2 linked regions of the Homo sapiens genome follow. The protein of the gene in region 2 interacts with the protein of the main gene of each other region in a biochemical or structural test. Each region holds a gene or a part of one and is shown on either strand. Other genes may lie near its edges. The genes, in order: WDR4 and PTPN23.

Evidence for each region.
Region 1: the proteins of PTPN23 (region 2) and WDR4 form a complex in vitro, tested with the Homo sapiens proteins (one study listed by BioGRID).

What each region holds. Positions count from the first base shown.
Region 1 is NC_000021.9:42,875,915-42,884,731, reverse strand, and holds the start of WDR4 (tRNA (guanine-N(7)-)-methyltransferase non-catalytic subunit WDR4), read left to right. Parts: upstream 1-5,192; 5' UTR 5,193-5,236; coding exon 5,237-5,325; exon of another isoform or gene 5,326-5,568; coding exon of another isoform or gene 5,569-5,645; exon of another isoform or gene 5,646-5,740; intron 5,741-7,964; coding exon 7,965-8,030; intron 8,031-8,817. UniProt on the Homo sapiens protein: Non-catalytic component of the METTL1-WDR4 methyltransferase complex required for the formation of N(7)-methylguanine in a subset of RNA species, such as tRNAs, mRNAs and microRNAs (miRNAs).
Region 2 is NC_000003.12:47,397,292-47,405,805, reverse strand, and holds part of PTPN23 (tyrosine-protein phosphatase non-receptor type 23), read right to left. Parts: intron 1,155-8,514; coding exon 1,027-1,154; intron 802-1,026; coding exon 725-801; intron 58-724; coding exon 8-57; intron 1-7. UniProt on the Homo sapiens protein: Plays a role in sorting of endocytic ubiquitinated cargos into multivesicular bodies (MVBs) via its interaction with the ESCRT-I complex (endosomal sorting complex required for transport I), and possibly also other ESCRT complexes.

The sequences.
Region 1 (8,817 bases), on a different chromosome or scaffold from region 2:
CAATGTAGTGCTGGTGGGACTATAAAGTGCTGTAGCCACTTTGTGAATCAGCTTGGCGGTCCCTGAAAAGGACTTTTTTTTTTTTGAGGTGGAGTCTGGCTCTGTTGCCCAGGCTGGAGTGCAATGGCGTGATCTCGGCTCACTGCAACCTCTGCCTCCCGGGTTCAAGTGATTCTCCTGCCTCAGCCTCCTGAGTAGCTGGGATTACAGGTACGCAACACCACGACCAGCTAATTTTTGTATTTTTAGTAGAAGTGGGGTTTCACAATGTTGGTCAGGCTGATTTCGAACTCCTGACCTTGTGATCCACCCACCTCGGCCTCCCAAAGTGCTGGGATTACAGGTGTGATCCATCACCCAGGCTGGAGTGCAGTGGCGCAATCTCAGCTCATTGCAACCTCTACCTCCCAGGTTCAATCCACCACACCTGGCCAGTTCCTGAAAAGTTTAAATGTTACCATATGACTCAACAATTCCATTCCCAGTGGAATGTTCACAACACCATTATTCATTATAGCCAAAAGGTGGGAAATCCCAAACTGCCTATCAACCAATGAGCAGATAAACAAAATGTGATATATGTGATATATGCATTCAGTGGAATATTATTCGGCCATGAAAAGCAGTGAAGTACTGATACATGCTACAATATCCATGAACCTTGGAAACCTAATATTCAGTGACAGAAGCCAGATTATATGAAATGTCCAGACTAGCAAAATCCATAAAACAAAGTAGATTAATGGTTACCAGGGGTTTATGGGGAGGGTGAAAGGGGGAGTGACTGCTACTGGGTTTAAGATTTATTTTGTGGGTGATGAAAATGTTCTAAAATTGTGGTGATGGATGCACAATTCTGTATATATACTAAAACCCACTGAAATGTACACATTACCACATATCAGGTGGATTACAACAGTAAGAATTTATTCTCACAGTTCTGGAGGCCAGAAGTCTGAAGTCAGGGTGTTGGCTGGGCCACGCTCCTTCTGAAAGGTCTAGGGGAGAATTCTTCCTCATCTTTCTCTTGGCTTCTGGTGTTGCCAGCAATCCTTGAATTATGGCCACATAACTTCAATCTCTGTTTCTGTCTTCATCTGGCATTCTCCTCTGTCTTCTCCCTTCTCTTCTCAGTACACATAACATTCGATTTAGGGTCCACCCAAATCCAGGATGCTCTCATTTTGCAATCCTTAACTTAATCACATTAGAAAAGACCCTTTCCCCAAAAAAGGTCACATCCCCAGTTTCCAGGGGTGGACATACATTTTAGGGGGCCACCTTTCAACCCACTACAACCACCATGAAATTAATGGGTCTTTGTCCATTTTTGTTTTTACACAATTTTTTTTTTAACTGAAGGACCATAAGACAATGCTTATGTCGTCTTGCCAGTTTGTAAAAAAAAAAAAAAAAAGGGTAACTTCTTGCCCATTTTTCTTTTTTTTTTTTTTTTTGAGACAGAGTCTCACTCTGTTACTCGGGTTGGAGTGCAGTGGCGCAATCTCGGCTCACTGCAATCTCCACCTCCTCGGTTCAAGTGATTCTCGTACCTCAGCCTCCTGAGTATCTGGGACTACAGGCACGCACCACCACTCCCAGCTGATTTTTCTATTTTTTTTTTTTTTTTTTTGAGACGGAGTCTTGCTCCGTCACCCAGGCTGGAGTGCAGTGGCATGATCTCGGCTTATTGCAACCTCCACCTCCCACGTTCAAGCGGTTGTCCTGCCTCAGCCTCCCAAGTAGCTGGGACTACAGGCGTCCGCCACCATGCCCGGCTAATTTTTGTATTTTTAGTACAGACGGGGTTTCACTATGTTGGCCAGGCTGGTCTCAAACTCCTGACCTCAGATGATCCACCTGCCTTGGCCTCTCAAAGTGCTGGGATTACAGGCGTTAGCCACTGCGCCCAGCCTGATTTTTGTATTTTTAGTAGAGATGGGGTTTCCCCATGTTGGCCAGGCTGGTCTCAAACTTCTGACCTCAATTGATTCTCCTACCTTGGCCTCCCAAAGTGCTGGGATTACAGGTGTGAGTCACCGTGCCTGGCCTTTTTGCCCATTTTTCTATTGTGCTAATGGAAGGATTCTCAGGTTCCTAATACCTTTTGCTCAGGACAGGACTAGAAATACAACACAACAATCCATAAGTTTTTTTTTTCTTTTTTCTGAGATGGAGTTTCACCCTTGTTGCCCAGGCTGGAATGCAATGGGTGATCTTGGCTCACTGTAACCTCCACCTCCTGGGTTCTAGTGATTCTCCTGCCTCAGCCTTCTGAGTAGCTGGGATTACAGGTGCATGCCACCAAGCCCAGCTAATTTTTGTATTTTTAGTAGAGATGGGGTTTCACCGTGTTGGCCAGGCTGGTCTCAAACTCCTGACCTCAGGTGATCTGCTCGCCTTGGCCTCCTAAAGTGTTGGGATTACAGGTGTGAGCCACTGCACCCGGCCAATCCATAAGTTTCTTAATTGAAAAAGAAAGCCCACACTCACTCTAGGCTAATGTAATCAATGATTTATAAAAATGGCCATAGTTGGGCCGGGTGCAGTGGCTCACGCCTGTAATCCCAACACTTTGGGAGGCCGAGGCGGGCAGATCACCTGAGGTCAGGAGTTTGAGACCAGCCTGACTAACATGGATCATGGATCACGCCTGTAATCCCAGCACTTTGGGAGGCCAAGGTAGGAGAATCAATTGAGGTCAGGAGTTTGAGACCAGCCTGGCCAACATGGTGAAACCCCGTCTCTACTAAAAATACAAAATTAGCTGGGCACGGTGGCACATGCCTGTAATTCCAGCTACTTGGGAGGCTGATGCAGAATCGCTTGAACCCGGGAGGCAGAGGTTTTGGTGAGCGGAGATCACGCCATTGCACTCCAGCCTGGGCAACAAGAGTGAAACTCCGCCTCAAAAAAAAAGAAAAAAAGAAAGCCATAGTTTTTATGAGCTTGTTGATCTATATCTAGGACTACAAGGAAGATATGCATGCTACAGACATTTGTACCTAGCAGTAGGTGCTACTGTAACATGTGGCATTAGCTTTGGACTAGAAGTCTGGAAAAGCAGTGGGGAAACTGGTAGTGAACACTGGAACAATGGTGAGGAAAACTACGGGAGGTGGACAAATGGTGAACAACTCTATGTCACGGTGAAGGATTTGTAAAATTGTTGCCCTTCAGTAAGATGGGCAGAGAAAAAGGCAACTACTGAACTCTGGGACTTGAAAAAGATCATATCAGTATAATGTTGAGATTAACCTGTGTTTCTTTTGCTTGAATATGTTGAGACACTTATAGAAAAGAGTGTGGTTAAAAACAAACAAACAAACAAACTGGCCAGCAGAATTTAGAGCACACTTTGGGTTGAAGCTGGGGAAAGTATTATTAGACCCAATAGTTGGTAACAAGTTCTCAAAGTAAGTCATAACCTGGGCCAAAGATCAAATTCAGAGTGGCGCTAATAAAATATGGCCTTAAGAATAATGCTGAAGTCAAGGTGATCTCAATGATTTAAATGTTAACAAGTGGCTGGGCGCGGTGGCTCACGCCTGTAATCCCAGCACTTTGGGAGGCCGAGGCAGGCGGATCACAAGGTCAGGAGATCCAGAACATCCTGGCTAACATGGTGAAACCCCGTCTCCACTGAAAAATACAAAAAATTAGCCAGGCGTGGTGGCGGGCGCCTGTAGTCCCAGCTACTCAGGAGGCTGAGGCAGGAGAATGGCGTGAACTCGGGAGGTGGAGGTTGCACTTCAGCCTGGGCGACAGAGCGAGACTCCGTCTAAAAAAAAAAAAAAGACTAGTGGGAGTGGCTTCTTGGGCATGGAGAGCACCTGAATCAGATTCTTGAGAAGCCCATAAAGCTTTTAAGGGACTTGTAGTGAACAAAGCACCACCAGCTGCCAAAATGTGGACAGAACAGTTTAGAGTGAAAAAAGGTCTGTGGGCTCACAATTTGCTAATGACAGGAAGGAGGTTGAGAAAGTTTCTCAAAGGGCACATTCTTCAACATGGCCAAGAAGGTGCTGGAAAAGGAGGGACACCCAAGAGGGCAGAGGCAAGAGCTGTGCTGAGATACAGCCTGGGGAGATACTCCCAGGAAGCAGAACTCGGGCCTGGTTAAGACTTCTTATTCTTGTAGGGCCTGAAAACATCTTCCAGTAGGATTTCAGAATTGCTTTGGACCAGTGATTACTGTGTCTCCTCCTCTTCTCATTTTCACATGCAAGTATTTATTGTGGTTATCTGGTCCCGGCTCACCATCATATATTGCGTGCACGGGAGAGAAAATTAATCTTTTTAGTTTGTAAGTCTCTGGATCAAGAGGAGCTGCACCGGACAAGCCAATCTAAAACAGACCGTGAGATCCTAGATTTTGTGCCTGATGCTGGGATTGTAAGAGGCTTTTGGGGATCTTGGGATGAACACTGGAAACTAACCATAGTTTGGGTTGAAAATATCACTACAGTTCGGAGATTTTAAGGCATCTGTGGCTTGTCTAAGTGCAAAGATTCAGTAGGCTTACTTCTAGCGACCTCAGACTTGACGCCACCCGAGACACCCTCACCCATGACCACATCTTGGACATTTTTTTTTTTTTTGAGAGAGAGTCTCGCTCTGTCGCCCTGGCTGGAGTGCAGCGGGGGCGATCTCGACTCACTGCAACCTCCGCCTCCCGGGTTCAGGCAATTCTTCTGTCTCAGCCTCCCAAGTAGTTGGGGCTACAGTCGCACGCCACCACGCCCAACAAATTTTTGTACTTTTAGTAGAAACGGGGTTTCACCATATTGGTCAGGCTGCTCTCGAACTGCTGACTTCATGTGAGCCACGGCCCCCGGTTCATTCACTTCTTGAAGGATCATTTACCAGGCATCTAGTAGCCATCATCAGGTCCTACGTCTCTCCAGCTACCGCGGAAAAAGATCCAGAACCAGCCCTACCCCGTCTAGAGGAAAGGATGAACATTAGGCAAGTACTTGGAATCGTGCGAAGTGCACTCCATCAGATCACCTTGGTGAGTGAACTGCCAAACCCGAAACACCGAAGGCCACCAGCCACAACCCGGAGGGCGGTCACAGCACCTTTCACGCATGCTCAAGGCAGGCTCGTCCTTGAGCATGCGCGGTACGTGGGGTATACGTCATCTCTCGGCGTCTGCGCCTGGCGTCACCGACCGGTGCGGACAGGAAGAGGCTCTGGGCTGGCACATGTGTATGGCGGTGAGGCGGGCGGGTACATGGCGGGCTCTGTGGGACTGGCGTTGTGCGGGCAGACGTTGGTGGTGCGGGGCGGCAGCCGATTCCTGGCCACCTCCATAGCAAGCAGGTGAGGGGGCCTTGGTCTTGGAACAGGGAGACCAGGCTGCGGGCGCGCGTCGGGTCCTGGCGACCCCGCTTCTCCCGCACCGCCTGGTCGCACCCACTCTGGGGTGACCCCGGGGAACTCCGCTCCAGCCCACGAGTCCTCCGCCGCAGTCTCGGCCTGGCCGCGTCTCTGCGCCTGGAGGGTCCGCTTTCGCCGTCCGCTCTCGGCGTCCGCTCCCCGGCTCCGGCGCGCTCCTTGCACTAGATGGCTGGTCTGCGGTGTTCTTGCCCGGTTAGCGCCGCCGGGTCGCTTCCGGTCTCCGCGGCGCCGGCGGGGACCGGGTAGGTAGAGCACGTGGGGCGACGCTGACCAGTCAGCAAGGCCCGGCCGAACACGCTCTGCAGAACTGGGAAGAAGCGGGTCTCGGGTCTCCCTGGTGAGAAGGGAGGGGCTTACTCACTGCGAGCTCACTGACCTCCAAGCGCGCTCCCTCTTTTTGCAGGGTTGTCTGTTCCCTCTTCCCGGCCTGCATCCACTCACCTGGCCTTAATTGCTCCTTAGGGCTCCAAGTCATCTCCGACACTTACCCAACCCAAGGGTGCACGTGGAGCTCGCAGTGCGCACCTCCCTAGTGGCCCTTCGCACGGCTCGGGTTTTGCTTTCCGTAATTTTATTCTCCTTCCTTAGTGTATCGCCAGTGCTAGGACGACGCAGGGGATTTTTAACTTAGTAAATGTTTGTTGATGGAACAGTCCTAACTCAGGACTCTCGGAGCAATTAGTAGTGCTGTCAGTTTCAGCCCCTCGTTTCCTTTCCCAGGTTATTTGTGATTTCATATTTGAAACGGACGACGTGTCTGTCAGATATACTGTATATTTTTTGTTCGTTTGGTTTTAGAAAGCCAATTCGATGTTAAGTTAGGTCTCACAAAAATTGTACTCAGAAACCCGTCACATATCCCAGATGATTTTGTTTTAGAGACTCACGGTCTAATATCTGCCAGAGTGAGCTGTGGATATATTAGACATGATTTGCTTACCTTCAGTCTTTGCATTTTGAGGAAATTCTAGTGGCTGGTGGAGTTTCTGACTTGGAAGACAAGTCCACGGTTCCATATGGAAAGTTTTTTGGTGCACTCGCTTTAAAGGCTATAAATATGTACAAGATACGTGCCAGGGGGTGAGGATGGGATAAACCGAAGTTTAGGTTCAGTATGGAAAATGGGTGATTCTTATGTTGGTAAGTGCCTGGGGTCATGGGAACACTTTCAGGTAGGTGAGATATGTTTCTAAATAGTAATGGCTCTTTGAAATTTGTATACAGAATCCCACTGAACGCTCAACAGTATCAGAACATAATTTCTTTTTTTTCTTTTTTTTTTTTTTTGAGGAGTCTCGCTTTGTCGCCCAGGCTGGAGTGCAGTGGCGCGATCTTGGCTCACTGCAAGCTCCGCCTCCCGGGTTCACGCCATTCTCCTGCCTCAGCCTCCCGAGTAGTTGGGACTGCAGGCGCCTGCCACCATGCCTGGCTAATTTTTTATATTTTTAGTGGAGATGGGGGTTTCACTGTGTTAGCCAGGCTGGTCTCGATCTCCTGACCTCGTGATCCGCCCATCTCGGCCTCCCAAAGTGCTGGGATTACAGGCGTGAACCACCGCGCCCGGCCCGTAATTTCTTATAACCATGTCGCATAGATTTTGTGGTGCCTAAAAGAATAGCATATTAATTCCTGTTGAGTATTTATCCCTCATTTGTTTTACTGAACTTTTTTTTCCCACAGAACTATGCAGTATGACGTACTCCAATAAGAGATTAAGCAAATAAAGTTTGTTAACTGTTCCCTGAAATATTGTATCTAGACAGTTTTCTTGTCAAGTATACAACTTTTAATTTAATGAGTGTGCAAATATTTTTTGTTCCACAGAGAAAAAAAATCAACTTTTTTTTTTTTTTTTTAACAAAGTGCTCTTTTAAAAATCATTGTTAGGCTGGGCGCAGTGGCTCTGCCTATAATCTCAGCACTTTGGGAGGCTGAGGCGGGCAGATCATCTGAGGTCAGGAGCTTGAGACCAGCCTGGCCAACATGGCGAAACCCCGTCTCTACCAAAACTACAAAAATTAGCCAGGCGTGGTGGCAGATACCTGTAATTCCAGCTACCGGGAAGGCTGAGGCGGGAGAATTGCTTGAATCCAGGAGGGGGAGGTTGCAGTGACCTGAGATCATGCCCTTGCACTCCAGCCTGAGTGATAGAGCGAGACTCCAACTCAAAAAAAAAAAAAAAAAAAAAAATTAGGGCCAGGCGCAGTGGCTCACATGGGCCAGGCGCAGTGGCTCACACCTGTGAGCACTTTGGGAGGCTGAGGTTGGTGGATCACCTGAGGTTGGGGATTTGAGATCACCCTGATCAACATGGAGAAACCCCGTTTCTACAAAAAGTAAAAATTAGCTGGGAGTGCTGGTGCATGCCTGTAATCTCAGCTACTGGGGAGGCTGAGGCAGGAGAATCGTTTGAACCTGGGAGGCGGAGGTTGCGGTGAGCCAAGATCGTGCCATTGTACTGGAGCCTGGACAACGAGAGCGAAACTCCGTCTCAAAAAAAAAAAATTTGTTATTTCTCTCTAATGATAACTCCTTTTAAAATTATTGTTATTTCTCTTTAGTGATGATGACAGCCTCTTCATCTATGACTGCAGTGCTGCAGAAAAGAAGTCACAAGAAAATAAAGGGTGAGATGTGGGGAAGCTTTTTCAGGGCCTGCTTTAATGGTTCGATAATGGGACCAGAGGGTCTAAGAAGCAATTGTTGTCCTACTTGCTGAATTCTTAGCTTCTGTCACACAGTGGTGCAGATAAGTAGCACCTCAGGAGAGACATGTAAAAGTAACTTTTAGGTTAGGCATTAAGAGTACATTGTTGGCTGAGCACGGTGGCTTATGCCTGTAATCCCAGCACTTTGGGAGGCCAAGGTGGGTGGATCACCTGAGGTCAGAATTTCCAGACCATCCTGGCCAACATGGCGAAACCCTGTCTCTACTAAAAATAAAAAAGTTAGCTGGGCGTGGTGGCAGGCACCTGTAATCCCGTCTACTTGGGAGGCTGAGGCACAAGAATCACTTGAACCTGGGAGGCGGAGGTTGCAGAGAGCTGAGATTGCGGCATTGCACTCCAGCCTGGGGAATAGAGCAAGACTCTGTCTCCCAAAAAAAAAAAGAGTACAGTGTTAGTGCCGGGTGCGGTGGCTCATGCCTATAATCTCAGCACTTTGGGAAGCCAGGGTGCTGACTGAGGTCAGAAGTTCAAAGCCAGCCTTGCCAATGTGATGAAACTCCATCTCTACTAAAAATAGCCAGGCATGCTGGTGGGCGCCTGTAGTCCCAGCTACTTGGGAGGCTGAGGTGGGAGAATCACTTGAACCTAGGAGGCGGAGGTTGCAGTCGGCCGAGGTTGCGCCACCGCACTCTCCAACCTGGGTGACACAGCAAGACTCCGTCTCAAAAAAAAAAAAAAAAAAAGC
Region 2 (8,514 bases):
TCCTCACCTCCTCAGACACCCGCTTGTCCATGGCCCCCAGCATGGAGTGCAGCGCTCCTGGGGAGGGAGGGGACAGTGTTAGGGGCCTGGGGCTGCTCACACCCATGTGAAGGTGAGACAGAGGGGGCACTGCTGTTATCCACAATCAGGACAACATGGCTCTGAGAACCAGGGCAACGAGTCCAAGGACACCCAAGCTGGAGGGAACAGGGAAACTCAGAAGTCCTGCCCAGCCCTCAGTCTCCTGCTCTGCATTTGGCAGAGGATGGAAGGGCTCCTGTCCAAGGGGTCCAATCTTGAAGCTTCAGGGATGTTTGCACAGAACTCTGGGGCTCCCCAAGCTTCTCCCTTGAGCCAGGCTAAGGCTGACTAGCAGGGTAAGCTGAGGCCAGCCACACTCTCCTCCTGCCTGAAGCAGCCCAAAACCACAGTGGGGAGGGGCTGTCCAGTCAAAGAAGAAAGGCCCTCTCTCCCAGACAGAGCACACAGTGGCAACTCTGTGTGGCAGCCAGCCCAGTAGAGCCTCGCCCCAGCAGAGGCTCCCCACGGGCCCAGCCCAGAAAACAGTGGAGGAGCTGGCAGGGCTGTGGGGAGGTCAGTGGAGGGGCGGGAATCCTGGAGTCCTCCCTTTATCAGCCCACTGCCTTTGTGGCCATCTGAAGAGCTGAAAGCTAGGCTGGCAGGACTGGGGAGTAGGGCCGGGGGAAGGGATCAGGCAGCTCACCAAGGTTGTAGAGAATACAGGCCTGCTCGTACTTGATGTCCTCATGGGCCACAGACTTGCCTGAGAAGATCTCTGTCCTGCAGACATGGCACCCCAGTTATCTCGAGGGCAGGAGCTAGCCAGGGCCCTGAGATTAGGTAAGGGGACTAAACACCCCATTGTGGGGATGTGGGGAGGCCTGGGGGGACCATATGAGGCCATTCCCCATCCTATGCAGCAAGGAGAAGGGGGAAGGGAGGGGAGGAGCACCCCCACCACCCAGACTCCCCGTGGGATCCTCCAGCCCTGCCTGCGGCTCTCACCAGGTGACAGGGACAGCGGCCTCCTGGCCCGAGCCCATGGGGACCCGACTCTGCAGGTAATGAAGCTGGCCGAGGTACTTGCGGAGGACACTACAGCCCTCAAAGTCTCGTGGGACACGGACAGCATTCTGGGGGGCAGGATGGGAGAAGCAGGCCTGTTGTCATATGGGGCAGTGGACACGCAGGCCAGCTAACTCACAAATGCCAGGAAAATGCATCACAGCTGGCCGACTGCACACACCAAGGGATCCCAAAAAGTCCATGGCTATACCTATAGTCGTTCAACAAAACATTCCACAAGCCAGGGCTGGCAGCTGGCCGACTGAATCTATCCCACATAGTTTTTCCTTTTTTAAAAAAAAAAAAAAAAAAGAGTCTCATTCTGTCACCCAGGCTGGAATGCAGTATTCACTGCAACCTCCTGGGTTCAAGCAATTCTCCTGCCTCAGCCTCCCAATTAGCTGAGACTACAGGCACACGCCACCATGCCTGGCTAATTTTGTATTTTTAGTAGAGGCGGGGTTTCCCCATTTTGGCCAGGCTGGTCTCGAACACTTGACCTTGTGATCCACCCGCCTCAGCCTCTCAAAGTGCTGGGATTACAGGCATGAGCCACTGTGCCCAGCCCATCTCAAACATCTGAAAAGCAGTTTGCAACATGTTTTAAGTTTTTTACTCTACTTAACTTTTGGCCCACAGTTTTTTGAATTTAATAGAGACAGGGTTTTGCCATGTTGCCCAGGCTGTTCTCAAACTCCTGGGCTCAAGTGATCCTCCCATCTCTACCTCCCAAAGTGATGGGATTAAAGGTGTGAGCTGCCACACTCAGCATGACCTACAGTTCTGTATCTAAAAGTTTACAGTAACAGACTTCCAGGAAAGCAAATGCTTGGATATGAACGCAAGGATATTCATCACAGCATTATTACCAGGGTCAAAAACTGGACTCCAGGTCAGGTGCAGGGGCTCACACATGTGGTCCCAGCATTTTGGGAGGCCAAGGTGGGAGGATCGCTTGAGGCCAGGAGTTAGATACCAGTCTGGGCAATGTAGCAAGACCCTGTCTCAACAAAAAAGAATTTTAAAAATTATCTAGGCGTGATGGTGCCTTTGGTCCCAGCTCCTTGGGAGGCCGACGGGAAAAGATCGATTGAGCCTGGGAGGTTAAGGCTGCAGTGAGCTATGGTTGTGCCACTGTTTTCCAGCCTGGGTGATGAAGCAAGACCCTGTCTCTCAAAAAAAGCAAAAGGTAAAACTGGATACCCACCAAAATTCCCACTAAAGGGGACTGTTTTAAATTAATTATGTCAAGGCGCCTCACAAGAGAATATGCTGCAGCCATGAAAACTAAAGACAAGAGTCTCTAGTTACTCATATGTTAAGATGCCTATGGCATGCTATTGGGGGAAAAAAAAAAGAAAAGAATGTGGCCAGGTGCAGTGGCTCACGCCTGTAATCCCAGCACTTTCGGAGGCCGAGGCGGGAGGATCACGAGGTCAGGAGATCGAGACCATCCTGGCTAACACGGTGAAACCCCGTCTCTACTAAAAATACAAAAAATTAGCCGGACGTGGTGGCAGGCACCTGTAGACCCAGCTACTAGGGAGGCTGAAGCAGGAGAATGGCGTGAACCCCCGGGGGGCGGAGCCTGCAGTGAGCCGAAATCGCGCCACTGCACTCCAGCCTGGGCGACAGCGAGACTCCGTCTCAAAAAAAAAAAAAAAGAATGTAACAAATGGGATCATACAAATACTGATATCCAAATGGGTACACAGGCCAGGCAAGGTGGCTCACGCCCATAATCCTAGCACTTTGGGAGGCCAAGGCGGATGGATCACCTAAGGTCAGGAGTTCGATGCCAGCCTGGCCAACATGGTGAAACCCCGTCTCTACTAAAAATACAAAAATTAGCTGGGTGTGGTGGTGTGTGCCTGTAATCCCAGCTACTCGGGAGGCTTAGGCAAGAGAATCGTTTGAATCTGGGAGGCGGAGGTTGCAGTGAGCTGAGATCATGCCATTGCACTCCAGGCTGGGCAACAAGAGAAAAACTCTGTCTCAAAAGAAAAAACAAAAAAACCCACAAATAGGTACATAAACAAAAAGAAAATTCAGAAGACTGTACACCATAATGTTAACCGTGATTATCGCTGAATGACAGGATTTAAGTAATTTATCTTATTCTATATAAATAGATAGATATGGCTGGGCGAGGTGGCTCACGCCTATAATCCCAACACTTTGGGAGGCTGAGGCGGGTGGATCGCTTGAGCCCAGGAATTCGAGACCAGCCTGGGCAACGTGGTGAAACCCCGTATCTACTAAAAACACAAAAAGTAGCCAGGCATGATGGTGCGCACCTGTAATTCCAGCTACTCAGGAGGCTGAGGCAGGAGAATCACTTGAATCCGGGGAGCAGAAGTTGCAGTGAGCTGAGGTTGCACCACTGCACTCCAGCCTGGGTGACAGAGTGAGACTCGGTCTCAAATAATAATAATAATAATAAATAAATAGATAAATATGTATACATCTGACAGACATGTATTTAATTCTTCATATTGTTTATGTATTTATATTAAACATTTTCAATATTTATGATAAACAACAGAGCTATTATTTTGGGGGGAAAACAACAAAAAAATGAACCCTCTGCTTAAACAAACAGAAAAGCAAACAATACACCCTCCAAGGAGCAGGTGCACAGTGAGGGGGATGGCTTGACACCTGTCTGCCCTCAGCCCCCTGCAGAGAGGACCAGAGCCTCTCACTAGGACTTAGCCAGAAGAAATCCTCCAGGACACTCCACTCTGGGAGCTCGGCTCTGAGCTGCCAGCAGGGATGCTCTCAGATGGGGTACATACACCCTGGGGACAGTGGAACAGAAAAGTCAGGCACCAGTTGTACTCTACACCACTTCCCAGCAGTGTCTTGGGAGACTCTGAAACTCAGTCTCTTCTTTAAACAGGGATGATAATCTCCCTGGTAGTGAGGCTTCTAGAATGCCCAGTGCAAGGATAAGGCATGTCACAGCTGCAGCTCACAGCATTAGGCCAATGCTTCTCAAATCTAGTCATTCTTATCATACCCCTCCATCATGACCTCTGCCATATCCAAATACCACTTGTACTTAACATTTTTCTTTAAACAATCCATTTTTAAAATTAAGAGCCACATCCTAAGCAATAACAGCTCTAAAATCACAGGTGTGATGCGCTAGCCACACAGTTTTTTTCAATACTCACTAAAATAGCACATATAAAAGTATTGAAAAATCTTGGCCGGGCATGGTGGCTCATGCCTATAATCCCAGCACTTTGGGAGGCCAAAGTGGGAGGATCACTTGAGCCCAGGATTTTGAGACCAGCCTGAAGAACATGGCGAGACTCCGCCTCTACAAAAAATACAAAAATTGGCCAGGTGCGGTGATGCATACCTGTAGTCCCAGCTACTCAGGACTACAGGCTTGGGAAGGGGGAGAAGTGATTGAGCCTGGGAGGTGGAGGCTGCAGTGAGCCATGATCATGCCACTGCACTTCAGCCTGGGCAACAGAGTGAGACCCTATCTCAAAAAATAAAATAAAAGGCCGGACGCAGTGGCTCACGCCTGTAATCCCAGCAGTTTGGGAGGCCGAGGCAGGCGGATCACGAGGTCAGGAGATCAAGACCACCCTGGCTAACAAGGTGAAACCCTGTCTCTACTAAAAATACAAAAATTAGCCAGGCATGGTGACGGGCACCTGTAGTCCCAGCTACTTGGGAGGCTGAGGCAGAAGAATGGCGTGAACCCGGGAGGCGGAGCTTGCAGTAAGCCGAGATTGCGCCACTGCACTCCAGCCTGGGCAACAGAGTGAGACTCCATCTCAAAAAATAAAATAATAAAACAAAATAAATAAAATAAAATAAAATAAAAGCCGGGTGCTGTGGCTCACACCTATAATCCCAGCACTTTGGGAGGCCAAGGCGGGTGGATCACCTGAGGTTGAGAGTTTGAGACCAGTCTGGCCAACATGGAGAAACCCTGTCTCTACTAAAAATACAAAATATAGCTGGGCGTGATGGCGAGTGCCTGTAATCCCAGCTACTCGGGAGGCTGAGGCAGGAGAATCGCTTGAACCCTGGAGGCAGAGGTTGTGGTGAGCCGAGGTTGTGCCATTGCACTCCACCCTGGGCAATAGGAGTGAAACTCTGTGTCAAAAATAAATAAATAATAAAATAAAATTTGTCTTGTACTTCCTAAAACCATCTTTGGGAAACAATGGAAGCAGTCTCCCCTCCAGATCCAAGAGATCACCTGTACCCTTTAATCCACCCAAGAATGCAGCCCCCTGTGGTTCTAGCCTGGTCTGTCAGACTCTCAGACGAGCTGCGCAGAGCCGCACAGAGGAGTCTGAGAGAGAGCTTGATGCTGTGATGCCCCCATAGCATCCCCTGCACCTGTCAGTTTTATTCCCTGTAATCACAGAGCCAAGAATTTATTTCAGAGTTTAAAAAGGAAAGTCTTCCTAGAAACAACTATTCAAACCCTGGTTTTACAGATGAGGAAACTGAGGCTCAGATCAGGGAAAGAGGACTGCCTAAAGCTTCCAATAACTTTTTCACTGAAAGATTATTATCAACGTCCTATGTAAGAAAATTTGTTCTGGGGTTTCACAAGTATAAGGAACAGTGATCTAGACTAGGCGTGGTGACTCACGCCTGTAATCCCAGCATTTTCGGAGGCTGAGGCAGAGGATTGCTTGAGGCCAGTAGTTTAAGACCAGCCTGGGGAATATACGAGACTCCATGTCTACAAAAAATACAAAAATTAGCCAGGCATGGTGGTGCATACTTGTCCCAGGTACTCAGGAGGCTGAGGTAGGAGGATCGCTTGAATCCAGGAGGCAGACGTTGCAATGAGCCAAGATAGACTGCACCCCAGCCTGGGTGACAGAGTGAGACTCTGTCTTTAAAAACAAAAACAAAAAAAACAGTGATCTAGTCCAACTCCCACATTGCTGGGATAAATTAAACCAAGTCCCAGGAAGGGGAAGTGGCTACCCCAGATGGCCATGTGTGAGCTTTTTTCGCACTGGAAAAGCACAGGTCTGAAGGCTGCTGGCTCACAGCTCTCTCAGGGGCTGCTCTACCCAGCCCATTGCTCTGTGCAGGTTGCCTGCCTTATGCTTTGGAGGATATGTCTCAGAGGATGCTTTGGAGATTGGTGGTAATGCTCCTTCTAGGGTGTGTTGCGTCCTTGTGTGTAGTGTGTGCCTGTGTGTGCAAAATGACGGTTGCCCCAGGGGCTAAGATTATCTCACTAGTTTTCAAACTTTGTTCAAATAAACCCTTTTTAAAGATTCAACTTATGAGGAGGGTTCTGAGAAGACAGCATAAGAAGAAGCTTGGTCTCCCCACCAAGACAAGCTGCACTGGCAGAATCTGACTTAACTCTGGAGTCTATTAAAGGCTTGCAACTTCTAGGCAAAGGCTTTGACAGTACAGCTCACTGCCATTAATTTTGGTCAATTTCAGCCCCTACCATAGTAGCAGCCACCCATCCCCCACCCCCAGCACCAGTTCCAGGAGCAGCTTGTGGGAGCCAGCATGGACAAAAAGGACTCTGTCCTCCAAATACAGGAGATCTTGCTGATTGCTGCTTCTGATCACAGAGGTACAGAGAAAGAGGCAGCTCCTCCACTATTGCACCTCCCTCCACGGCTGTAAGCTTCTTCACCTCTAGCTGAAGGAACTTCCAAGGGATCTAAAGGCCTGGCATCTTTTCCCTTCTTCATTTTTCTCTTTTTCCTCCTTTGGGAGGCAGACACTAAAGAGTAAGATGTTCAAAAGCAACCACATATATAGGGCAAATGAGAAAGTCTGCACATGTGCAGGGAATGGTACAGGCTCAGAAAAGACCTGTGAAGACCTTAAGTTTACAAGGCCGGGTGCTGCGGCTCATGCCTTTAATCCCAACACTTTGGGAGGCTGGGGCCAGAAGATCACTTGAGCCCAGGAGTTTGAGACCAGCCTGGGCAACACAGGGGAACCCCATCTCTACAAAAAATTTAAAAATTGGCTGGATGCGGTGGTGTGCACTTGTAGTCCCAGCTACTTGGGGGCTGCAGTGGGAGGATGGTTTGAACTGGGGAGATGGAGGCTGCAGTGAGCCGTGATTGTGCCACTGCACTCCTGCCTGGACGACAGAGCGAAACCCTGTCTCGGGAAAAAAAAAAAAAAAACTTTAAGTTTACATTTCAGGCTGATTCTTGGCACAGGGGTAGCCTACAACAATCAAAAACACACAAAAAAACCCAGCAAATCCCGGGGAAGGGGGAGAATCTGATATCCAGAGATATGACATCATTCGATTCTTTTTTAATTTCCTTCAAGAATTTTTTCTTTGCATTCCTAACTTGGTGATCTGGTGCAAGAGGCCTAGCTTTTGGCCTATCTCAGTTTTTCACGTGCCTTCCTTACTAAGTGTAATAATTTCTAGCTTTTCTTTTTTGAGACAGTCTCACTCTGTTGCCCAGGCTGGATGCAGGGGTGCGATCTTGGCTCACTGCAACCTCCACCTCCTGGGTTCAAGTAATTTTCCTGCCTTAGCCTCCCTAGTAGCTGGGATTACAGGCATGCGCTGCTACCATGCCCGACTAATTTTTGTATTTTTCGTAGAGAGGGGGTTTCGCCATGTTGGCCAGGCTGGTCTCGAACTCCTGATTTCAAGTGATCCACCTGCCTCAGCCTCCCAAAGTGATAGCATTACAGGCGTGAGCCACTGCACCTGGCCTTGTACTAATTTTGAATAACTGACATAGAAAATATCTTCACCAGGCGGGGCGCGGTGGCTCACACCTGTAATCCCAGCAATTTGGGAAGCCGAGACAGGTGGATTACCTGAGGTCAGGAGGTCGAGACCAGCCTGGCCAACATGTTGAAATCCTGTCTCTACTAAAAATACAAAAAATTAGCCGGGCGTGGTGGTGGGCGCCTGTAGTCCCAGCTACTTAGGAGGCTGAGACAGGAGAATCACTTGAACCTGGGAGGTAGAGGTTGCAGTGAGCTGAGATCGCGCCATTGCACTCCAGCCTGGGTGACAGAGTAAGACTAGGTCTCAGAAAAAGAAAAAAGAAAATATCTTCACTCAGTAGACTAAATGAAAATGTATCCAAAAATTTACTGATGGGTAGTATACTGGCAATAGTTGCTAGTACTGCTGGGTTATTGCAAGGATTGGTATGTGGTCCATGATAGACAAGAAAACACTAACAGCTACTGATTTCTATGGCATGTATCTACATTACTGGTACTCAAGTTCAGCCATGCCAGTGCAGACTCTTACCCTTCTAACAAAAACATAAGGGAAAACATGTTGTTATCCAATAGTACATACAATAATCAGGAAAAAAATACAGCATACCTCATTTTATTGCACTTCACAGGTGCTGTGTTTTTTACAGACTGAAGGTTTGTGACAATTCTGCATCACACAGGCCTGTCGGCACCATTTTT